3 linked regions of the Homo sapiens genome follow. The protein of the gene in region 2 purifies or fractionates together with the protein of the main gene of each other region. This does not show direct contact. Each region holds a gene or a part of one and is shown on either strand. Other genes may lie near its edges.

What was found.
Region 1: the proteins of ARCN1 (region 2) and COPE purify together in Homo sapiens (affinity purification with mass spectrometry; 4 studies listed by BioGRID and IntAct, with this or other methods). This does not show direct contact.
Region 3: the proteins of ARCN1 (region 2) and COPZ1 fractionate together in Homo sapiens (co-fractionation; 5 studies listed by BioGRID and IntAct, with this or other methods). This does not show direct contact.

The regions. Positions count from the first base shown.
Region 1 is NC_000019.10:18,901,624-18,909,771, forward strand, and holds part of COPE (coatomer subunit epsilon), read right to left. Parts: intron 5,490-8,148; coding exon 5,337-5,489; intron 4,313-5,336; coding exon of another isoform or gene 4,244-4,312; intron 4,007-4,243; coding exon 3,953-4,006; intron 3,230-3,952; coding exon 3,148-3,229; intron 1,801-3,147; coding exon 1,645-1,800; intron 1-1,644. UniProt on the Homo sapiens protein: The coatomer is a cytosolic protein complex that binds to dilysine motifs and reversibly associates with Golgi non-clathrin-coated vesicles, which further mediate biosynthetic protein transport from the ER, via the Golgi up to the trans Golgi network.
Region 2 is NC_000011.10:118,595,989-118,604,136, forward strand, and holds the end of ARCN1 (coatomer subunit delta), read left to right. Parts: intron 1-1,718; coding exon 1,719-1,923; intron 1,924-4,636; coding exon 4,637-4,726; 3' UTR 4,727-7,045; downstream 7,046-8,148. UniProt on the Homo sapiens protein: Component of the coatomer, a cytosolic protein complex that binds to dilysine motifs and reversibly associates with Golgi non-clathrin-coated vesicles, which further mediate biosynthetic protein transport from the ER, via the Golgi up to the trans Golgi network.
Region 3 is NC_000012.12:54,341,862-54,350,009, reverse strand, and holds part of COPZ1 (coatomer subunit zeta-1), read right to left. Parts: intron 7,805-8,148; coding exon 7,723-7,804; intron 6,786-7,722; coding exon 6,694-6,785; intron 4,551-6,693; coding exon 4,495-4,550; intron 2,244-4,494; coding exon 2,166-2,243; intron 2,011-2,165; coding exon 1,959-2,010; intron 391-1,958; coding exon 352-390; intron 1-351. UniProt on the Homo sapiens protein: The coatomer is a cytosolic protein complex that binds to dilysine motifs and reversibly associates with Golgi non-clathrin-coated vesicles, which further mediate biosynthetic protein transport from the ER, via the Golgi up to the trans Golgi network.

The sequences.
Region 1 (8,148 bases), on a different chromosome or scaffold from region 2:
TCACTAGATTAAAACTGTTTCTCAGCTGGGCGCACTGGCGCATGTCTATCATCCCAGCACTTTAGAAGGCCAAGGAGGGTGAGAATTGTTTGAGCCCAGGAGTTCAAGACTAACCTGGACAACACAGTGAGACCCCATTTCTAACAAAAAATACAAAAATTAGCCACGCATGGTGGCATACCGTTTCAAAAAACAAACAAAAAACCCCCCAAAATTCGTTTCTCCAAAATGGAAAAAGCTTTGATGTCCTTTCTGATTATAAAAATAATAATCCAGGCTGGGCACAGTGGCTCACGCCTGTAATCCAGTACTTTGGGAGTCCAAGGTGGGCAGCATCATGAGGTCAGGAGATTGAGACCATCCTGGCTAACACAGCAAAACCCCATCTCTACTAAAAATACAAAAAATTAGCTGGGCATGGTGGTGGGCGCCTGTAGTCCCAGCTACTCGGGAGGCTGAGGCAGGAGAATGGCATGAACCCAGGAGGCAGAGCTTGCAGTGAGCCGAGATCACACCACTGCACTCCAGCCTGGGCGACAGAGCAAGACTCCATCTCAAAAAAAAAAAAAAAAAAAATCCACCAAGCATGGTGGCTCACACCTATAATCCTAATGCTTTGGGAGGCTGAGGTGGGACGATCACTTGAGGCCAGGAGTTCGAGACCAACCTGGGCAACACAGCAAGAACAACCCCGTCTTTACAAAATATATATATATTTTTAATTTAACATAACATAAACTCTTCATAAAGACTGCAGATGGCCAGGCGTGGTGGCTCACGCCTATAATCCCAGCACTTTGGGAGGCTGAGGCGGGTGGATCACCTGAGGTCAGGAGTTTGAGACCAGCCTGACCAACATGGCAAAACCCCGTCTCTACTAAAAATACAAAAATTAGCCAGGCGTGGTGGCAGCCGCCTGTAATCCCAGCTACTTGGGAGGCTGAGGCAAAAGAATCACTTGAACCCAGGAGGCGGAGGTTGCATTGAGCTGAGATCACACCACTGCACTGCAGCCTGGGTGACAGAGTGAGACTCCATCTCAAAAAAAAAAAAAAAGAAGAAAGGAAAGGAAGGAAAGGAAGGAAAGGAAGGAAAGGAAAGGAAGGAAAGGAAGGAAAGGAAGGAAAGGAAGGAAGGAAGGAAGGGAAAGAAGGAAGGAAGGAAGGAAGGAAGGAAGGAAGGAAGGAAGGAAGGAAGGAAGGAAGAAAAGACTGCAGACATCAGGCAGGAGATGACTGCAGCCACCCTGGGCAGGCAGCGCTCTCTCAACGAAGAGCTCCTGTCCACAGCACACTCTCCCCTACATAAGTACGGGGAGTGTCTCTCCAATACTGAGTATGTACTCAGGTGAGGGGTCCCACTTGCAGGTCCCGGGCCAGGCAGCTGAGGTGACAACAAGGACGGCTCAGACCACTGAGGCCCAGGCTGCCCAGATGCCCCATTTCTGTGAGGCCGGAATCTGGATTTCTTTGCAGGTGAGATCCCTGCTTTGTGGATCTCGCTGCTGACTGGGCCTTAGAAGCCCTGTGGGGCCACACGCACACCCAGGGGGTCTCTGCTACACTTGTTTCTGTCCGCCCTGACCCCACCCTCTGGCCGCCTGGCCTTCCCTCCGTCCCCACTCTGGGACAGGCTTGTGCCTACCTTGTCTAGCGCCTCCTGCAGCAGGCCCTCAGCGGCCTCCCAGCGGCCCTGGGCCATGTGGCAGGCCGCCTGCCCATTGAGCAGCAGCAGGGTGGGCGAGCACTTGTCAGCCATCTCCTGGAAGATGTAGTAGGCATCCTGCAGCTTCTCACCACCCTGCAGGGAGGGTCCCGCATCATTGCCTGTGCCCCTGCTGCCCGGCCCTTCCCCCGCCAGCCCCCTCCCCTAGCGGGGGGGACTCCAGCACTGCACAGAGACGAATCTGGTGTGCCCGGTTCAAGGCACAGCCACTCCGCCATGGGGACTACCCGTAACTTGTACTCTGCTGATGGGGCCTAAAGACTCGTGGCCGCCTCCTGCCCCACCTCCCACCCAGCTCCCGGAGTGCTGAGTACACAGAGGTGGAATCTGGGGCTTCCAAGGCCTCAGTGCACAGGTGGCTGGCTCAGGGTCTGAGTGGGGACCACTGGGTCACTGAGCACGTCAGAGGAGGAGGAGTCAGCTCTGTGACCAGCAGCCCTGACCTGTCCACTTGCTCAGAACAGCAGAACACTTGCAGGGGGAGCCTGAGGCCAAGGCAGGCAGTGAAAACAGCCCAAACTACCCGATAGGTCTGCCGGGGCCTGTCCTACCATACTAGACGGTCACTGGAAGTCTGTCTGGGTGAGGCTTCAGCCCCGTGGCGGGCAGGGACGGGGAGCACATTTTTTTTTCTTTCTCAGAGTTTCACTCTTGTTGCTCAGGCAGGAGTGCACTGGCGCGATCTTGGCTCACCGCAACCTCCACCTCCCGGGTTCAAGCGATTCTCCTGCCTCAGCCTCCTGAGTAGCTGGGTTTACAGGTGCATGGCACCAAGCCCAGCTAATTTTGTATTTTTGGTAAAGATGGGGTTTCTCCATGTTGGTCAGGCTGGTCTAGAACTCCCAACCTCACATGATCCACCCGCCTCGGCCTCCCGAAGTGCTGGGATTACAGGCGTGAGCCACTGCGACCAGCCAGGAAGCACATTTTAATAGGCCCACACAAAAGAGTGGCTCAGAAGGGGGCCAAGTCCCAGAAACCAGGAGAGGGGCTGTTGCCGGGCGGAGGTGCCCAGGCCTGGGAGCTGAGGACATCTCCACCGCTGCTATGGGAACACTGAACTCCGTCCCTGGCTGGCGACCAGGACCCTGGAGAGCAAAGCTGAGTCGCAGAAAACCCCAGGAAGCCCTGAGGGGAGGAGGGCCTGCCAGGCCAACCCAGACCCTCGAGTACCCCTGTGCCTCAGGCTCAGGAACCCGTCCCCGCCCCCACCATCTCTTCGCTCTGGCTCTGGCCAAGTCGCTTGGCTGTGAGAAGCCCGGAATGGAGTCAAGGCTGAGTTATGCCAGGCTGGCAGGGGCCACGGCCTGATCCTGGAGCCCCACTGGAGTGGCCAGCAGCCTACGCACAGGTGGGGGTGCCCACAGACCCTGCTCAGCCAGGTGCCCGCAATGCCCACCCACCTCATGGCCTAGGGCTCACCGTGGCCAGGCTGACCCAGGCAGTGGCGAGCTGGGTGAGGGTGGCATCCTCGTCCAGGTCCTGCATTCTCTTCAGCTCCTTCCTGGGGCGGGGACAGATGACAGAGGGGCTGAGTGGCCGAGGGCCCTGGCCTGGCCATCCCTGCCTTGTCCCCACTTGGGGCCCACCGGAGCCTGGGGATGGCCCCTGCTTTGTGCTCCACTGCATGCTCATACCCCACGACTAAGTGCCCGAGCCACCCTGCCCGTCTGACCACGTGCAGGCCCTGGGAAGGTGGGACTGGGGCCAGCTATGGCCCCCCAGGGTGGCCACCACAAGGTAGAGCTCAGGAGAGACTCACTCCATGGAGGATGGAACGCAGGGAAGGGCAACGGAACTACAGTGTGAACAACTCTGAGGCAAGGGCTTTGGAAACGGCAGCAGGGGAGTCCTGGACCCCCAGCCATGGCCTCCGACCTGGTGATGCCACGTGCAGGCCCCGCCAGCCCCACGGCACAGTTACAAGCTGGTCAAGTAACATGTTGCTCCAGGCACAACCTCCACTCTCCCTCCATGAAGCCCACCCTCACCCTGTGGGAGAGGCCTGCCACCCACTGCATAGAGAGAAACTGAGGCACAGAGAGCCATGGCCCTCCTCCCTGGCAACATACTGCAGGGAAGGGCTGAACGACAGCAAGCCACCCCCATGGAAAGGAAAGACAACAAGAGTAATGACAGCACCACAGACGCTCTGGGCTGTGACGCTCTGGGCTGTGACGCTCTGGGCTGTGGCTCAGTGCGGGTGGAGAGGGGCAGGAGGGCTCACCGGGCGAGGTCCAGGCGGTCCAGCTTCAGCAGGATCTGCACTGTCATGGCTGTGCTGCAGGACAGGGCGAGGGGGCGGTCAGCGGGTCGCCACAGACACATTGCATGGCCGCTCCACACCCAGGGCTCACTGTGTGTGTCTGGGATGTTCCTAAGTCCTGTGCTTAGGACCACCAGCCCCGCCCAGCAGAGGAGGACACCCTCACTCCCACATTTCACCGCTCAGCTTCCTCAGGCCCAGGAGCTCTGGGGGAGGTACCCAGGATGGGGTTTCAGGCCCCGGCCCACTCACCGCCCATCTGGAGAAGCAGCCTCCATGGGCTGTGCTTCCAGATGGAGGGCCCTGCCCGGACTCGACACCCTGGAGGCATCAACACTCAGGAACAAGGCCCTAGAGGAGGGCCACGCACCCGCCCCTGCACCTGCACCTGCAGCAGAGCCCTGGGGCCACCCACTCTCTGCAGGCCCCCTCGTCCCCTCATCCCTCTCAGCCCCAGGTGGCTGTGACCACGAATTACTCGTGAGGCCTCTTGTTCTTGTTTTCCTGCCAACAGGAGCCAGCACCTGGACCAGCACCGAGTCGGCCGGCTCGCCGACAGTGTGACATCCCTATTTATTTTCTTTTTTGTGTGTGAGTCAGGGTCTGGCTCTGCCACCCAGGCTGGAGTGCAGTGGCACCATCACGGCTCACTGCAGCCTCCACCTCCCAGACTCAAGGGATACTCCTGCTTCCGCCTCCCAAGTAGCTGGAAACATAGGTGCATGTCACCATGCCTGGCTCGCCCTGCAATTCTAAGCCCTCTGTGGATGGAGGTGGGATGGGAGCAGATCCACAGCGACCATGAAATGCCCAGCTTGCAACTCACAGTGGAAGGCAGGCACTGCAGGGACAGCTCACGGGGAAGAACTGACACACTTTCTGTGACCAGTGCCCTGGACATGGCCCGGAGTCACATCCTAGGGTGGAGGGGGGCACCAACCTTGCAGGGCTTCAGCACCCCAACCCCAGAGGGCCCTGGAGGAGGGCCGGTATGGGGGGCCCGGGGAGGCCTGAGAGACTGGGCCCAGGGCCGAGACACAGAAGGCTTCGTGGGGGGTGGGGACACAGAAACCGAGCAGAGACAAAGCCGCTTTCTGCTCTGCCCTTGGGAACAGAGGGTTGCAGCCTGGGCACCGTGTCCTTGGATCTGCAGCCTGGTGCGCAGATGGGAGTGCCTCCCACACTGGGCAGGGGAGCTGGAGCCTGGACAGCAGGCCAGGGCCTCATTTCAGCACCACCTTTCTCTGCTCCCATGACGACAGCCAGCGAGGCCGTGCGCAGCCTGGAGATGTGGCAGGGGGCACTTGCCTCCCTGGGCTGGCCCCAGAGCAGGGAGGCCACTCACCACTCCAGGCTGTCCCCCTGGTGCAGCGCACGCAGGGCGGCATCCGGGTTCTGGTCGTGGAGATAGATGGAGGCGGCCATGAGCAGGAAGGTGGTGTTGGTCACGTCCACGCTCCTGCTCATCTCTCGGTCCAGCTCGGCCACGATGCTGTCCCTGCAAGACAGAGATGCTCACGACCCACAGCTGGGGTGGCCTCTGTGGGACCTCAGAGGGTCCCCTTCCTTGGAAGCAGACAGGTCCAGAGAGGGTGAGCCAGGCCCTGGGGGTGCAGAGCAGCAGCAGGCCGAGCATCGAGCTGTCCCGACATGTCCTCCCTCCGTTCCTATGAAGCACCTCTCATGCTGGGCCAGGCAAGGACCCGAGGCCGGGAGATGTGGGGTGGGGCGCTCCAAGGGGACATGAGGAGGCACCGTCAGTCTCACACCAACCTCACCCGCCTTCCTGAGGAGGCTGGTGGGCCCAGCTGGGACTCCTGACCATAACCCATCAACCCTGTGGGCTTCAAGGCCACGTCTTCTAGCAGGAGGTCGGCCTGGGTGCCGAGGGGCCGTGCAGAAGGATGGGAGCCCTGGGGCACCCCCACTGCCAGGGCAGCTGCCCTCAGTCCCTGAGAGCCCAGGGTGCTGGCTGCACCCTGAAGATGGCCAGTGTGCTGCGGGCCAGGGCCAGGCTTGAGCCCAGGCAAGGCTGAGGACCGGCTCAGCTCCGAGGGCACAGGTCACCCATGCCTCCATGTCCCTAACTGGACCCAGACCCTCCATTCCCCATGGCTATTGAGCAGCTAAAAAGAGAAGGCAGGTGAGGGGGCCACCCTAGACCAAAGCTGGTGTTCTTCTGGGTTCAAACGTGGCTCTGTGACCCCGTAAGCATCCACGCGCATCTGGGGGCTGTCTGCCCAGGGCCCGTGTCTGAGGTGTCACTGAGGGCATGGCATGTCTGATACCAACCAGGCTCCACTGAGGGCTCGCCACAGTGCCAGGTCCAACAGACAAGTGACTTCAGGTCTGAGTCTGTTTCCCCGTGCTGAGGGACCATGTTACAGGGATCATGCAGGGGAGGAGCAAGGAGCTCCCAAGACCATCTTACAAAGCTTCCTGAGGCTCCAGCACACAAGGGTGTATAAACACTGCCAGTTGTCGTAGCGTTGGTACTGTAATGTTGTCATCCTAAGGTGTTACAATTACCAATGGGGCCGGGTACTGTGGCTCACACCTGTAACCCCAGCGCTTTGGGAGGCCAAGGCAGGATCGCTTAAGCCCAGGAGTTCAAGACCACCCTGGGCAACATAGTAGGACCCCTTTTTCTACAAAAAAGTAAGAAAGTCAGCTGGGCCTGGTGGCGCCTGTAGTCCCAACTACTTGGGAGGCTGAGGCAGGAGGATGGCTTCAGCCCGGGAGGTTGAAGCTGCGGTGAGCTGTGGTCACACCTCTGCACTCCAGCCTGGGTGACAGAGGGAGACCATCTCAAAAACAAGCAACAGCAACAAAATCAATTACTGGGCGGATCGCTTGAGCCCAGGAGTTTGAGACCAGCCTGGGCAACATGGCAAAACCCCATCTCTCTTTTTTTTTTTTTGAGACGGAGTCTCGCACTTTCGCCCAGGCTGGAGTGCAGTGGTGCGATCTTGGCTCACTGCAAGCTCCGCCTCCCGGGTTCATGCCATTCTCCCGCCTCAGCCTCCCGAGTAGCTGGGACTACAGGCACCCGCCACCATGCCCGGCTAATTTTTTTTGTATTTTTAGTAGAGATGGGGTTTCACGTGTTAGCCAGGATGGTCTCCATCTCCTGACCTCGTGATCCGCCCGCCTCGGCCTCCCAAAGTGCTGGGATTACAGGTGTGAGCCACTGCGCCCGGCCAGGCAAAACCCCATCTCTAAAAAATATACAAATTAGCCAGGCATGGTGATGCGTGCCTGTAGTCCCAGCTATTCGGGAGGCTGAGGTGGGATGATCACTTGAGCCTGGGAGATCAAGGCTGCAGTAAGCCAAGATTGTGCCACTGTATGCCAGGCTGAACGACAGAGCAAGACCGTATCTCAAGAAAACAAAATCAAAACCAAAACCAATTACTAATGGATGCTCCTTGTCCCCGGGGCGTCCTGCCAATGAGGTCGCGGCTGTGCAGCCAGATGAACGGACCACAAGCCCCTGCCTGGACCGCCTGCTCTCCGGGGCTGCTTTTCTGTGATGCTCACAGCAGCTGCTGCTCCTGGGGGACCCAGGGTTCCCTGCCTTCACTCCAGCTGGTGAAGTAAGTGCAGGGTGGGAGAAACAGTGGCCCTGGGAGGTCACCTGTCTCAATGTCCTGGAGCTGCTGTGGCAAAGCACCACAGCCCGGGCAGTTAAGGACAACAGGGATTCGTTCCTCACAGCTCTGGAGGCCGTAAGTCTGAAGTCAAGGTGGCGGCAGGGCTGGCTCCAGCTGGAGGCTGGAGGGCAAGGCCGTCCCAGGCCTCTCTCCCAGCTCTGGTGGCTGCTGGCCACTCGTGGTGCTCCTTGGCTAGCAGACATGTCACTCCAGTCTGTTGTCACATGGGCTTAACTCTGTGGGCCTCTTTCCTTTTTTTTTTTTTTTTTTTAAGACAGTCTCCCGCTGTCACCCAGGCTGGAGTGCACTAGTGCGATCTTGGCTCACTGCAACCTCTGCCTGCCAGGTTCAAGCGATTCTCCTGCCTCAGCCTCCCAAGTAGCTGGAATCACAGACATCACATCCTGTTAATTCTGTATTTTTAATAGAAATGGGGTTTCACCACGTTGGCCAGGCTGGTCTTGAAAACTCCTGACCTCAGGTGATCTGCCCACCTCGTCCTCC
Region 2 (8,148 bases):
GCCGGGAGGCGGAGCTTGCAGTGAGCTGAGATCGCGCCACTGCACTCCAGCCTGGGTGACAGAGCGAGATTCCGTCTCAAAAAAAAAAAAAAGTACTAATTTAATTCATAGTTTTCTTCCCTTTTTGATAATTCAAGCCTTTACATTATCAGGTCTGGTTTTAGTCATTCTTGTTTCCAATTTTAAAAATATACTTTATTACCAGTATCCCCTTTAATGGGTAACCATCTTATCCTCTACAGTATGGTTATTGCTTCAGAACAATAGATGGCTGCCTTGAACTGTTGTAGGACTTGGGTGTTGGTGACAGGTAGAGTTTTGTTTGTCAAGATTTAGTTTACTAGACTATTTATAGAATGCTACAATTTTGAGGCCTGTCTACCCTATAATTGTGGTTGTGGTGGTTTCCTGTATTCTAGTTCAGTTTTGCAATGGTCTCCAGAAGAGACCCTTACACAACATTTTACTCCCGTTGTCTAGAACTGATCAAATTAGAAGAGATCAGAATCAGAATTAGAGCAAGGGCACAGAGAAGGAACATAAAAGAACCAGGACCCTGAAATTGATAGGGAAGAGTTAATAGTCTTATGCCACCCTTAAAGTTTACTTTGTCTCCCTTATTTACCCTATCCCTAATATAAACATTGAGTGTCACTGGTGAATTAAAAGCTGGTAAATTTAGAATGTGTAGGAGTAGGTGACACTGCCTGTCAGCCGTGTGTAGGGGTGCAGAGTAAATCTTAACTAGCCCTGCTTCTCTCGCAGATTAAGGACAACTACGGATCTGTTTCTCCCATCATGTTTCCATTTTGCCCCAGGGGTAATTGTGCTTTCACTTATCAAATAAAAGTCCATTTACTGGATTGTAAATCAAATAAACCCATTGGTGTCAACTTCAATAAGTTTGAAACATTCTGAAATCTTTAAAAACAAATTCTCGGCCGGGTGCGGTGGCTCATGCCTGTAATCTCAGCACTTTGGGAGGCCGAGGCAAGTGGATCACGGGGTCAGGAGATGAGACCATCCTGGCCCGCATGGTGAAACCCCGCCTCTACTAAAAATACAAAAATTAGCTGGGCGTGGCGGCACACGCCTGTAGTCCCAGCAACTTGGGAGGCTGAGGCAGGAGAATCGCTTGAACTGGGGAGGCGGAGGTTGCAGTGAGCTGAGATCACGCCACTGTACTCCAGCCTGGCGACAGAGCAAGACTCTGTCTCAAAAAACAAATGAACAAGAAAACAAATTCTCTCAAAGGCCTCCATTCATCTCCACTATTGATGTTTAGAGTTTTCCCCCACTATTATCAATCTGCTTGTTTCCCCATTGTCTCCTATAAAGAGTGCTACATTATGTTAAAATTCCTTATTTATAGGGCAGCAACCTATTGGTGCAGGGTTTTTGGAAACATAGCCATCTTAACACATCTGTTGGTCGCAGTCCCCAGATCTAGTCCTTAAGTTGGAGCAGCCCATAGGCATATCTGCCAAATACCTATTTTTGCATATTAACTATATCTACAGAGGGAATTGAGTGAAACTCTTAGCCCAAGGTGCTAGGACTTCATCGTTTGATCCTTGAAGTTATTAGCCTTTTTTTCCCCTGAAATTGTAGTCCTAGAAGGCAAAATTTGGGGATCATATATCAAATTTGGGGTTGGTTTTCCGTGGTGGAGTTCTAGCTCTGAACAGCTACCTTGACCAGAATGTTTCTCACAACAGGTCTGGTGTCGGCGCGCCTGTTATCGGTGAGATCGATGGGGAGTATCGACATGACAGTCGACGAAATACCCTGGAGTGGTGCCTGCCTGTGATTGATGCCAAAAATAAGAGTGGCAGCCTGGAGTTTAGCATTGCTGGGCAGCCCAATGACTTCTTCCCTGTTCAAGTTTCCTTTGTCTCCAAGAAAAATTACTGTAACATACAGGTACTCCATTTTAGTTGAGAACATATATAGGGAAAGTGGTAGGACAGTAGGAACACGTATAGGATGCCAGACAGGTAGCATGGCTTTTTGTGGTCAGATAAAGCTCAGAAAAAAACTGATGTCTCCTACAGGAATTCCCTTTCTAATTCATTGTATGATCGTGGTCAAATTCTTTTATTGCTTTACCTCAGTTTTCCTCTCTAGATCAGACAAAGTAAAGAAATGGAATGTTAATACAGATAAAAGTACTTGTGGATTATGCAAGATTCATAAACACTTAGTTGCCTGTTTTTTTTTAACCTTATATATTTTAAAGTCGATTTGCCAAAACACCCCAACACATGGTTTTTTTAAGGCCTTGCTGTCACTTGATTTATACCCAAAGAATGAAATTGTTTTATTTAGAAGACAAAATTACTACAAAAAAAAAATCCATTCTATTACAAATGGAAATTATTTGAGGGTTATTTATGTCACAGCTCCCTTTATTAGTACAAATAATCATGAGCCAATTCTGTTGCAAACTCTGTCCTTTAGGTAGGCAAAGCAATGGAGATGTGTGAGCTGTTCCTTCGGATTTTTTTTTTTTTTTTTTTTTTTGAGATGGAGTTTTGCTCTTTTCACCCAGGCTGGAGTGCAATGGCGCGCTGTCAGCTCACCGCAACCTCCGCCTCCCAGGTTCAAACAATTCTCTTGCCTCAGCCTCCCAAGTAGCTGGAAATACAGGAATGCGCCACCATGCCCTGCTAATTTTTGTATATTTGGTAGAGACGGGGTTTCTCCATGTTGGTCAGGCTGGTCTTGAACTCCCGACCTCAGGTGATCTACCCGCCTCAGCCTCCCAAAGTGATGGGATTACAAGTGTGAGCCACAGTGCCCAATGGATTTTTTTCCTTTTTTTCTGAGACGGAGTCTTGCTCTGTTGCCCAGGCTGGAGTGCAGTGACATGATCTCGGCCCACTGCAACCTCTGCCTCCCGGGTTCAAGCAATTCTGTCTCAGCCTCCCCAGTAGCTGAGATTACATGCGCCTGCCACCATGCCTGGCTAATTTTTGTATTTTTAGTAGAGACAGGGTTTCACCATATCGGTCAGGCTGGTCTCGAAATCCTGACCTGAGGTGATCCGCCCACCTCAGCCTCCCAAAGTGCTGAGATTACAGGCGTGAACTACCACGCCTGGCGGATTTTTTTTTTTTTTAAGACGGAGTTTCACTCTTGTTGCCCAGGCTGGAGTGCAATGGCGTGATGTTGGTTCACTGCAACCTCTGCCTCCCAGGTTCAAGCGATTCTCCTGCCTCATCCTCCTGAGTAGCTGGGACTACCGGCATGCGCCACCACGCCTGTCTGATTTTTGTATTTTTAGTAAAGACGGTATTTCACCATGTTGGCCAGGCTGGTCTCAAACTCTTGACCTCGTGATCCAGCCACCTCGGCCTCCCAAAGTGCTAGGATTACAGGCGCGAGTCACCGCGCTCGGCCCGGATCATTATTTTTTAACTCATCATTCTTCCAGTTTTTATTGTTGTTGTTGTTTTGAGACGGAGTCTTGCTCTGTCACCAAGGCTGGAGTGCAGTGCGATCTCAGCTCACTGCAGCCTCTGCCTCCCAGGTTCAAGTGATTCTCCTGCCTCAGCCTCCCAAGTAGCTGGGACTACAGGCGTGTACTGCCACACCCAGCTAATTTTTTTTTGTATTTTTAGTAGAGATGGGGTTTCACCATGTTGGCCAGGCTGGTCTCTAACTCCTGACCTCAGATGATCCGCCCACCTCGGCTTCCCAAAGTGCTGGGATTACAGGAGTGAGCTTCCACGTCTGGCTGTTCTTCCAGTTTTTTAATTTGCATTACTAGGACCCAGTTTATATTATTAATATTCCCCTCTTTTTGACTTGCTTGTTGTTCTGGCCCTACCTTAGCTTCCCATATGGTCTCCGTCTCCCCTGTAAATGCTTAGAAAATTGCAGCTTCCTCCCTTGAATGATTCCAAAGAGCAGTTCTCTCTCCCTATCCTGTTAGTGACATAACCCCATCAGTGTTGGAAGCAACTGTATTGAACTCAAGACATTAGATAGAAATGGGTAAATTTTCCTATTGGGGCTATTCAAAGATTAGGACATTATAATTGCTCTCCCAAAACTTCATTAGAAAATACGAATCAGTGGTTCAAGTGTTGTATTGGTGCCGTTATAGGTACCATTGTTACATGTAATTAATTAAGCTGGACATTTATTTATTTAAAAAGGAAAAACCTCATTGGACCAGCCATGCCTAAAAAATAAGTATGATAGAGCAGCTTACTGGGACTTTTAACACGAGACTTTGAGAGCAGAGCAAATGAATAATGTGAAGAGCTAGAACGTTGCCTTTTGGGTCAGAATGTTAATATATCATCCTGATAGAATGTCTATGAATTTCATAGGTTATACAGGGCAGGGCTGGGCTGTGGCCACTCATTTTGGAGCTTTTACTTAATACTACGGAACATCTCGTCCCAACAGTTGTCTTTTCTCCATCTAGAAGAAAAGCAGCTTAATCATTTTGGTGGGGAAGAGTGATGCTGTGACTTTCAGTTGTGAATTGAACATTTTTCTAGTATTTTACAGTTACTTTTAATACCGCTTTTAGGGAAATTGATATGTTCTGTAATGAGAATGTAGTCAACATGATGGAGACTCAAACCTCCTGCTTTACCTTACTCTTTGTTTATTTTCCTAGGTTACCAAAGTGACCCAGGTAGATGGAAACAGCCCCGTCAGGTTTTCCACAGAGACCACTTTCCTAGTGGATAAGTATGAAATTCTGTAATACCAAGAAGAGGGAGCTGAAAAGGAAAATTTTCAGATTAATAAAGAAGACGCCAATGATGGCTGAAGAGTTTTTCCCAGATTTACAAGCCACTGGAGACCCCTTTTTTCTGATACAATGCACGATTCTCTGCGCGCAAGGACCCTCGACTCACCCCCATGTTTCAGTGTCACAGAGACATTCTTTGATAAGGAAATGGCACAAACATAAAGGGAAAGGCTGCTAATTTTCTTTGGCAGATTGTATTGGCCAGCAGGAAAGCAAGCTCTCCAGAGAATGCCCCCAGTTAAATACCTCCTCTACCTTTACCTAAGTTGCTCCTTTATTTTTATTTTATTATTATTATTATTATTATTATTATTTTTTGAGATGGAGTCTCACTTTGTAACCCAGGCTGGAATGCAATGGCATGATCTCAGCTCACTGCAACCTCCGCCTCCTGGGTTCAAGCAAGTCTCCTGCCTCAGCCTCCGAGTAGCTGGGACTACAGGTGCACGCCACCACGCCTGGCTAATTTTTTGTATTTTAGTAGAGACGGGGTTTCACCGTGTTGCCCAGGCTGGTCGCGAACTCCTGAGCTCAGGCAATCCGCCCACCTCAGCCTCCCAAAGTGTTGGGATTACAGGCATGAGCCACCATGCCCAGCTGCTCCTTTATTTTAATCCCTAAATATAATCCCTAAATATAGTTATATTTCATACTTAGTTTGTTTTTAAAAAGTTTTCTCTGTAGAAAATTTTAATCATTCATACCCTTTACCTTTAGGTTTTTCTTTCTATACATTCAGTCAGGCACTGGGATCATCTGTTTACAGGCATTATATTTATTTGGCACTCCTGGAACAAGTATATCTAACCCATTCTTGATTTTTGGACTATTCAGGTGAACTATTTGAGGGGTATGGGGTCTAGAAGTTAAAAGATACGCATGTCTTCTGTTCTTTTCCCGTATCAATTCATTCCTTCATCTCTTTGCCAAGTTGTTTTCCTTTCAGGGCCTGTCCTTCCAGTTTAGAACAGTACCATGAATCCCACTTGTGTCAATATTAAAGATAGCTGAGAAGCACCTTTCAAATGGCACAGTCCCTCTTCAAGATGTCTAAAAGAATGGTTATGTCTGTCCAGTTAGGGATTTCACATCCACATGTAATCATGTCTGCTGCTGTTGCTACCCAAATTTTCATTTCTCCACATTTTGGGTACTTAAGCTAAAACGTAATGGCCACAGTCTGTAATCCATTCACATTCCTCAGTTTCACCACCTCCCTCTTCCAGACTGCACTCTCTGTCATCAGTCCCCTCCTTTCTAACAGAAATGGGGTTATGATTTTGAAGGCTGTGGGTTCAGGGAGTCTTTGCCAATCCTGTTGGCCCTAAACTATCAAGGAGGCTCCATTTCACCATTTGATTTTTTGCATTTCAGGAGGCAACTGATTGTTTCGATATGTACATATTACTCACGTATACCCCATTTCCTTCCAGTCAGCCCAACATTTTCCACCAGTCTGTCCCCATCTCTGAAATCCTTCCTTCTCTTTCCCCCTAAGTCTTTTGAGTGTCATCATGTACTGGTGGTTTCTCGGTTCCATCTCATCCATTTCCTTTTCAATGGAGACTACAGCGTCAGCCAGCTCAGCCTTGGCTTTTAACTCAATATTCCAGTCCATAGGGGTGGTTAAAAGTTGCTGCAAGGCTGCAGGCACTGGCAGTGGGAAGAGGCAGACGACTAGATGACTTCTGCACTTTTAGCTGGTTGAAAAGTACCACTCCCACTCTGAACATCTGGCCGTCCCTGCAAAGAGTGTACTGTGCTTGAAGCAGAGCACTCACACATAAATGGCTGTGTGTGGAATTGCTTGCCAAAGAAGTTTCTAGCCTTTCCCTTTCCCCTAACTGCATCAGGGAAGAATTCTTATCTCTAGCTTGGTTTCCACATGAGGTTTTTCTGAGAAGGGCTTGGGACAAGAAGTCTGTCATGTTAGTTAAGCAGGCAAGAAATCCTACTAATCCAGTTTTGTTTGAAAGTTGTTTGTCCGTATGATTTTTTAAAAGTCAAGTTTAATTTCAAAAAACCTTTTTTTTCTGAGATTACTTTTGGGGTAATATTTAAAATGAGAGACATTTTGTAACCCTGTAAAATACATAGGGAATATAACATTCCAGTGTATACAAAGAAGGCAAATTCTTTAATCAAATAAAGCGCATTATAAAATGAGATGTTTATTGGATTATTGACTCACTTTGGTGTCTGCTTGTTGATTCAGGATGCTGTAATGGGACCTAACATTAAAAATTAATGACATGTTTTTTTTAAGAGAAAGTAATCTGTGAGAGTATTCATTGCCTTTTTCCATCTTATATGTATTGTGCTTCCTTGCGTATTTTTCTACATTTGATACATGCACTCCTGACAGTGTAGCTTTTGAATTTGATGCTACTTCTGGCCTTTTTGGGGATTGGAGTCTTAATTTTGTCAGACGGCAGTTGGAGAGTCAAAAAAGTCAGGCTTCATCTTTAATCTTGGAGTCTTGGAGTCTTCTCTTCCCCATTAGACCGTGATGAGAAGTGATCCAGGGATGAGGGATAATGGGAACAATTTTTGGGAACTGTTGATAATTCCCTCAGATAAACCTGCTTACTTTTTTTTTTTGAGATGGAGTCTCGCTTAGCTGCCCAGGTTGGAGTGTGGTGGTGCGATCTCAGCTCGCTGCAACCACGGTCGCCCAGCTTCAAGCGATTCTCCTGCCTCAGCCTCCAGAGTAGCTGGGATTACAGTCACCCGCCATCATGCCGGGCTAATTTTTTTTGTATTTTCGTAGAGACGGTTTCACCATGTTGGTCAGGCTGGTCTTGAACTCCTGGTCTCAGATGATTCGCCCACCTCTGCCTCCCAAAGTGCTGGATTACAGGCGTGAGCCACCGCGCCCAGCCTTTTTTTTTTTTTTTTTTGAGACAGTCACCAGGCTGCAGTGCAGTGACATGATTTCGGCTCACCACAACCTCCACCTCCAGGGTTCAAGTGATTCTCCTGCCTCAGCCTCCTGAGTAGCTGGGATTACAGGCATTCCACACCACCACCCCCGGCTAATTTTTGTATTTTTAGTAGAGACGGTTTCACCATGTTGGTCAGACTGGTCTCAAACTCCTGACCTCGTGATCCGCCCGCCTCAGCCTCCCAAAGTGCTGGGATTATAGGCCTGAGCCACCGCGCTCCGCCAGAGCTGCTTACTTTCTTATGCTTTTTTAAAATTTAACTTGGAAAAACTATTGGGTGTCAAAAAATTGGAAGGCAAATTATTCTCACTTATTAAGTATCTGGGATGAGAAATTTCTAATGTTGAAAGCCAAGATTCTGATTTTTTTTTTCTTGGTGAAAAAAAGTATCTGGTCTAATGTTGCTCAAGTGTGGCTTAGCTGTCTGAG
Region 3 (8,148 bases), on a different chromosome or scaffold from region 2:
GAATAATAAGAGAAAGAGAGTGTGTGTGCACAAATGCACACAGACCATCTGCTTAAGGCAAGCCTCTGCTGGGGAATAAATCACTGAATGAGGCATCAGGCAGGCAGGGAGGGTTTGAAGGGTACAGAGCAAGGCTGACAGCCACTGCTCACAGGTAACTGAGAAAGGAGTTGGAAGTAGGGGTAGGGAGTGGCTGGCTGTATGAGTCCCAGTTCTCTGGAATAAGAGGGAGCCAAGGAAGATGTGTCTTGAGTCTCTAGTTTCACTCAGATTTGAGAGGTATGGGTGGAATGCTGTTCTAGCCTCTTTAGTGACCCAGTCCATCTGGAAAGGAAGAAGGGAGAGTCATACCTGAGACACGGTCTGCTCCGTAAGGGGGACATCTTCACCCTATGGCACAGAGATACAAGCATTTAGTGTGGGAGAAAGCTGGAGTAAGACCTGATTGGAGTCTGGTATTAGAGAAGAAAAAAGTGATCCTTTAAACTGAAACAAAGGGCAGATGCACTGAACTTCTCAGTCCCTTCTAGGGACTAGTACAGCTACAATTTTACTTGGCCAGAGGGACTATGAACAAAAAAGGGTCATTTCATCCAGCTTCCATTTTAAGGCAGGAGGACTTCTTAAAAGATTTAACTCCATTCAGAGTAACCAGCAGGTTATCTGATCCTCAACTCCCTTAACGTGGGGGTGGAGGACCTGATTCCCTAGTCAGAAAAGGCCTTTTCTGAATATCAGTATCACTAGGGAAAGGATGAGGGGGAGCCAGGAGTGGTTTAATGGATCCCGCAAAGCCTGATGGGTAACGACAGCATGTTAATTTGAAGAAATAAACTGCTGCAACAGCAGCCTAAGAAGACAAAGCGGGGAGTTGATGGGGGGGACCCTCTCTCTTGCCACACAGAGACATATGTTAGAGGAGAAGATTAAACTATGCAAATGGAGCCCACAGCAGTTAAGAGAGATTTCCCATTACCAAGCACTGTCAGCCTTCACTCTGTGGAGGTCAGAGCCAGGACATTCTGTGAATGGGGAGATTTGCTTTGCTCAGACATCTTTGCACCCGTATAATTTGTTGGTGGGCTCTCTCTGCATCCACCATTATCTCCTCAGCTGACCTGGGGCCTTCTATGGTTAACTCAGAGGCCCCTTTCTGATATCACCAGCACCAAAGAGGACTGAGGTTCTGGCAAATAAGTACTTCCTAATGGAGAGGTACCATCCTCAGTTATGTAACACTTTATTATTATTATTTTATTTATTTATTTTTTTTGAGACAGAGTCTCACTCTGTCGCCCAGGCTGGAGTGCAGTGGTGCAATCTCGGCTCACTGCAACCTCCACCTCCCGGGCTCAAGCAATTCTCCTGCCTTAGCCTCCTGAGTAGCTGGGATCACAGGCACGCACCACCATGCCCAGCTAATTTTTGTGTCTTTAGTAGAGACAGGGTTTCACCATGTTGGTCAGGCTGGTCTCGAACTCCTGACCTTGTGATCCGCCAGCCTCGGCTTCCCAAAGTGCTGGGATTACAGGTGTGAGCCACCACGCTCAGTCCTATGTAACACTTTAAAAGACAAAACAGACACTCCTCTGCCTCAGATGACTGGATCCATCTCCAAGAAGGGAATAAGCCAACTTCAAGTTGCTTTATAATTTCAAAACCATAAATATTAAAGTTTATTTTATCATTTATTAAATAAGTATGTATTAAATGTCCACTTTGTGCAAAGACTGTATGAGATGTTAGGCACCATATTAGGGGTAGAAATAAGTTATTTCTGCTTCTTTCTTTGGGACAATAAGAAGAGAAGGGAAGAGAAAGGCTGAATGTATTTGAAAGAAAAAGAGAAGGTTGTATGTATCCTATGAGCCCCAACTACTGGACACATCCAGCAGGTCTGGCTCTGGAGGGTGTTTGTGAATAGATGCGGGGATGCAAAGAAACACATTCTTGCTTACCCTTAATGCCACCCGGTGTACCACCTGCTGGGGATCACTCTCTAGGATCACCCTGCAAAAACAAAGAAGAGATCATTGTTCACTCTGTCCCGAAGGCCCAACTCACTGTCGGGGAACAGGACCTCTGGCCACTGAGCCTGCTTGACTTAGGACAGGGGCAGTTATCCCGCCACCTCACCCAAGATCAAGGCAGGTCAGAGAACTTACCCTCCATCTACAATTTCATCCACAGCCAAGAACAGCCCCTCCATGTTCTCCAGCAGTGCTCGCTTTTCTACATTTTTCCTGAGTCCCCAAGAGAAGAGAAGAGAATAACCAACTTGTATGTGAAAGAAATCCTAGGACCTTGTCTCAATTGAGGAACCTAAACTAGACCAATAAACATCTCCACCAACCACACAAAGAAGTAAATAAGGTGAAGAACTTTTTAGCTAGTTCACTCAAAACCCCTTTCTACTCGTTTGCTGAATAAGGAATGTATGGAAAGAGATTCAAATAACACAGTCAATTTCTGACTATTCAGGGGTTGATTATCCACGCTATTATTTCTTTCCTACCTGCCATGATGCTGCTCATAACATTGCTCATAAACACTGACATCAGTGGGTGGAAAAAAACAATATAAACAGAGCTAAGACTCAGTCTGGAGGTGGCCGGAGGTGAGAGGGGTTCAATGCAAACCTTATTTGTACTCAAGCTCTGACAAACCTCCTGAGACATTCTCTGTTCCCTCTTCTCCCTATCCCTTACCAGCTCTGCTCAGGCCCTGAAAAGAAGCCCAAAGAGGGGGCAGGGTCTGCATACACCAGCCTCAGATCCGTTGGTTGGTGCATGTGGCCTGTCACATCTGTCAGTTTGAGTCTTTCACTAGATTACCCGAATGAATTACTATTCATTCACCTGGATAAGAAATAAATCATCCCCTTCCTGAGGAAATCTGAGCCATTCACCCTGCTGATTTTGCAGGGCTGAGAGTGCCTGCTGTTCTGGTCTGGATGGCTGTCTGTACTGGGTTCACTTGGGAGCTGCTGGGGGAATGAAGTTCAGAGCCCTGGATGTTTTCAGGAAAAGTAACTTATATCTCTTCTATTACCCATCTACACGGGTAACAGAGAACAGAGGGCTAGTGGGAAGGTGGAAAGGGAGGAGAGGGTAAATGGCAGAAGCTTCCTGTTTTTTGTTTTGTTTTGTTTTTTGAGACAGGGTCTTGCTATGTCACCTAGGCTGGAGTGCAGTAGCATGATCACAGCTCACTGCAGCCTCAACCTCCTGGGCTCAAGCAATCTTCCTACCTCAGCCTCCCAAGTAGCTGAGACTACAGGTATGCACCACCACACCTGGCTAATTTTTTTATTTTTTGCAGAGACAGGGTCTCACTGTGTTGCCCAAGCTTGTCTTGAACTCGACTCATGCAGTCCTCCTGCCTGGGTGCTTCCTGTTCTACAGAAGGGAAAAAACAAGGACTAGAAGTCAAAAAAAAACTGGTCTAAGTGGCTCATGCCTATAATCCCAGCACTTTGGGAGGCCAAGGTAGGTGGATCATTTGAGGTCAGGAGTTCAAGACCAGCCTGGCCAACATGGTAAAACCCTGTCTCCACTAAAAATACAAAAATTAGCCAGGCGTGGTGGCACGTGCCTATAATTGCAGCTACTCTACTCGGGAGGCTGAGGCAGGAGAATCGCTTGAACCTGGGAGGCAGAGGTTGCAGTGAGCCGAGATCACGCCACTGCACTCCAGCCTGGGTGACAGAGTGAGACTCCATCTCAAAAAAAAAAAAAAAGAAAAAAAAATTGGGAGTGTTGCTTCCATTCCTGAAGTACTGAATGACATTTCATCTGGGACACTTCCTTATGCTTGGCCTTTCCCTACTTCTAATGTCAAGAATGAAGCCCAGGAAAGCACCTTGAGGATGCTCAGATCTGACAGGACCACAGGGGATTACAAGAGTAAACACAGAGGTAAAGATTCGGCTCCCTCCCAGTCCCCTTACTTAGTAAGAGAATTATTCTATGGGAGGGACATACTCTCCATCCAGTCCTCCCCAGTAGCATGAATTACTGTGAATTAATAAACCCAACTTTTTTTTTTTTTTTTGAGACAGAGTCTCACTCTGTCGCCAAGGCTGGAGTGCAGTGGCGCGATCTCGGCTCACTGCAAGCTCCGCCTCCCAGGTTCATGCCATTCGCCTGCCTCAGCCTCCCAAGCACCTGGGACTACAGGCGCCCGCTACCATGCCCGGCTAATTTTTTGTATTTTTAGTGGAGACAGGGTTTCCCCATGTTAACCAGGATGGTCTCAATCTCCTGACCTCATGATCCGCCCGCCTTGGCCTCCCAAAGTACTGGGATTACGAACGTGAGCCACTGAGCCCGGCAAAACCCAACTTCTAAAACTAAATCAACTCCCTGGAGCCTTTGCCAATCCCCTACAATCCCTGGGCCTGAAGAATGGTTACTTTATCTCCCAAAAAGAAATCAACAATGCCCTGCTCTTTCCATCATAACTTGAGGGGAAAAAAAAGAATGTCCTGCTCACCTCAGCATCTGGCTCAATGAGTCGAAGAGACAGTTCAGAACAGCCATAAGCATCAGCTGTTGGGAAACAGAGGAGGCAGAAGGATAAGGTTCAAGGCCCTGAAAGCTGCTACCTAAAAACAAAACCTCCTAATTCATTAAACATCAAAAGACACAGGCTTTCACAAAGGACCAAAAACATAAAGTGGAAGTGAGAGCACAACAGGAAAAGGATCTGTGATTTCTCACAGAAATAAATTCTGCTACATGATTCCACAATTCAACATCTTTTAGCCAAAAGTTTAAACAGAACTTCCCTGTCACAGTCCTCTACAATGTCTTCACCAACTGTATATGTGTTACCTGATGTCTTAGGTAGAGAAATTACTAACCAAGCAATAGCTGAGGTCAGAGGAAGGCTTCAGAGTTAGTGTAAAAAGCATGGACTTTAATTGGCTGGGCACAGTGGGTCACACCTGTAACGTCTAGACCCTGTCTAGACTCTGACTCTATCCCAGCACTTTCGGAGGCTGCAGCAGGCCGATTGCTTGAGCTCAGGAGTTGAGACCAGCCTGGGCAACATGGCAAAACCCTGTCTACAAACAATACAAAAAAAAATTAGCCAGGCATGGTGGTGGGCACCTGCAGTCCCAGCTACTTGGGAGGCTAAGGTGGTAGAATCACTTGAGCCTGGGAGCCAGAGGTTGCAGTGAGCCAAGATCGCACCACTGCAGTCCAGCCTGGGAGACAGAACAAGACCCTGTCTCAAATTTTTTTTTTTTTTTTGAGAGTCTGGCTCTGTCACCCAGGCTGGAGTGCAATGGCGCAATCTCAGCTCACTGCAACCTCCACCTCCCAGGTTCAAGCAATTCTCTTGCCTCAGCCTCCCAAGTAGCTGGGATTACAGGCGCCCACCACCACGCCCAGCTAATTTTTGTTGTTGTTGTTGTTTGTTTGTTTGAGACGGAGTCTCGCTCTGTTGCCCAGGCTGGAATGCAGTGGTATGATCTCGGCTCACTGCAACCTCCGCCTCCCAGGTTCATGCCATTCTCCTGCCTCAACCTCCCGAGTAGCTGGGACTACAGGTGCCCGCACCACGCCCAGCTAATTTTTTGCATTTTTAGTAGACATGGGGTTTCACTGTGTTAGCCAGGATGGTCTCAATCTCCTGACTTCGTGATCCGCCTGCCTCGGCCTCCCAAAGTGCTGGGATTACAGGTGTGAGCCACCATGCCTGGCCTGTATTTTTAGTAGAGATGGGATTTCGCCATGTTGGCCAGCCTGGTCGCGAACTCCTGACCTCAAGTGATCCGCCCACCTTGGCCTCCCAAAGTGCTGGGATTACAGGTGTGAGCCACCACGTTCGGCCTATGTCTCAAAATTTTTTAAAAAGCATGGACTTTAAGTCAGACAGATATGGGTTGGAATCCAAGCTGAGCCATTTTCTACATGTGTGACCCTGAGAAAGTTACTAGGTTGAACCACATCAGATAACTGCCACTTTTGTACTTTTCTCAATGGTCACATACAAGTAATTTCATATAGTTCTTCATGGTTTGGTTTCCTCATTTGTAAAACAAAGGCACCAATGCCTACAACTCATAGAAGTGCTATGAGGTTTAAATAACAATATACTTTACAAAGCACTTATACCAATAATAAGAGCTCAGTAAGAGTTGACTTTCTCAAACTTTCACTTTTGCCTCAAATTATCTGGGGGCTTATTTTTATTTATCTATTCTCCTAGAAGTTGCTATCTGAGGCAAACAGCTTTTCCTGCATATAGGAAGCAGGTTAGGACTATACCCAAGGTCTTCTCCAGTGATCCATTCAGAATGTATGGTTTCAACATGACCCAGGTTGTTAGCTAATTGGCTCAAACTCAGTCAGGTATGGACCCTTCATAGAAGAAGCAAGTATCCCCCTGCAGTCTTGACCATACCTCAGAAATCCATCTTAAAAAACACTACTCAGGGAAAGGTATTAAAACATATATGATGTTTCCTAATGGATGCAAAAGATTAATCTAGGAAAACTTCCTTTCTAGGCGATTCATTTGCCGGGCCATGTTTGTGAGGCTGGTGGGATCTCTGACAACTTCATTAGCTTGGTCAGAAGCCAGAGGAACACGGCTCTATTAGGGCCCCAAACCAGTGGCTATGTACTGCCTGTGGTTTAGAAAGTAGGATCAGAAATAGCAAAGAGGGGTGGGGATTCTCACCTCATTTTCATAGGAGCTGCCAATCACATAGAAATAGAGATCTATACTGCTTTTGTATACCACTGTCAGGCCTTCCAAGAGGGCAATTTCACCTGGTGGGGGAAAAAAAGTAAAAATAGTGGGTGGCTTGAGATAAGGAAGTAGGAAAGAAGGAGTTACCAGCCAGGCGCAGTGGCTCATGCCTGTAATCCCAGCACCTTGGGAAGCCGAGCCTGGCGGATCACCTAAGGTCAGGAGTTCAAGACCAGCCTGGCCAACACAGTGAAACCCCGTCTCTACTAAAAATACAAAAATTAGCCGGGCGTGGTGGTGTGCACCTGTAATCCCTGCTACTCAGGAGGGTGAGATGGGAGAACCACTTGAACCTGGGAGGCGGAGGTTGCAGGGAGCCGAGATCTCGCCACTGTACTCCAGCCTGGGTGACAGAGAGAGACTCTGTCTCAAAAAAAAAAAAAAAAAAAAAGAAGGCGTTACCATGAATTCCTAGTATCCAGCTCTTTTGGGCTAAGGTGAGGCCGCCTGTAATGACTTCCAAAGCCAGAAGATGATCTGCACTTTTTGGGTGGTGGCAGGAGAAGAGAAGTATGAACTTGGGGGAGTCTAAATGTATCTTCTGTAACCACCATCCTCTGTTCCTGCCCACTATACCTATTTCCCTACTTGTATATGAGACAGGATACTAGTCGATCCTTCGGAGGTGAAAATGCAGAGCGGTCACCTTTACAGACTTCCATTTACCTGCCCTAATGGATGCGGTACAATAAGCAGAGCTGCAATTAAATTTGTCAAGTGAGGCTCATAAATCCAGGGACTAGACAGGTAGCTAACAGCCAACCTTCCAGCATGGTATTCCCGCGTGAGGTACACTCACCTCCCCATTACATTCTGAAGAGTTTATTATACAAGGGGAAGAAGGAAAAAAAAAGAAAAAGGCAGAGTCATTTCATCCTTTCTCTGCAGCCCTGTTACCACCCCCTTTCCACCATGGTTCCCCCCAGCACGGGTAGTAGTGAAAGGAAAATGACCTACTGTCAGTCCGATGGGTCTTGTTGAAAATGTTCTTCTCAAAGGCCTTTTGCTCCTTGACACTGGGGTAGGTGTCGTCATAGTACTGGTCAGAGGGAAAGAAGACAGGGTTGGGTCACTAGAGCTGGAAGCCAGAATGATTAGTGACTATGTTTTGCCCTGGGATCTTGGATTTCTCTCCTTCAAGGCATGGGGCAAGGGAGAAATACTGACATGGAAAAGGAAGGATTGTAGAGGCAGAGAATGGGCAGTGAGTAATCCAAGAAAAATAAATAAAAGACCCTGCCATAAGCAACCCCACCTCACATTTCCAAGACTGTCTGAAGGCAGAAGCCTACCAGCCCTACAGTGAGGCTCTGCAGCTGTCTGCAATCTAGACCTCTCCTAAAACCATTCTCATCAAGTGTTTCCTAGGAGCTACCCCATGTC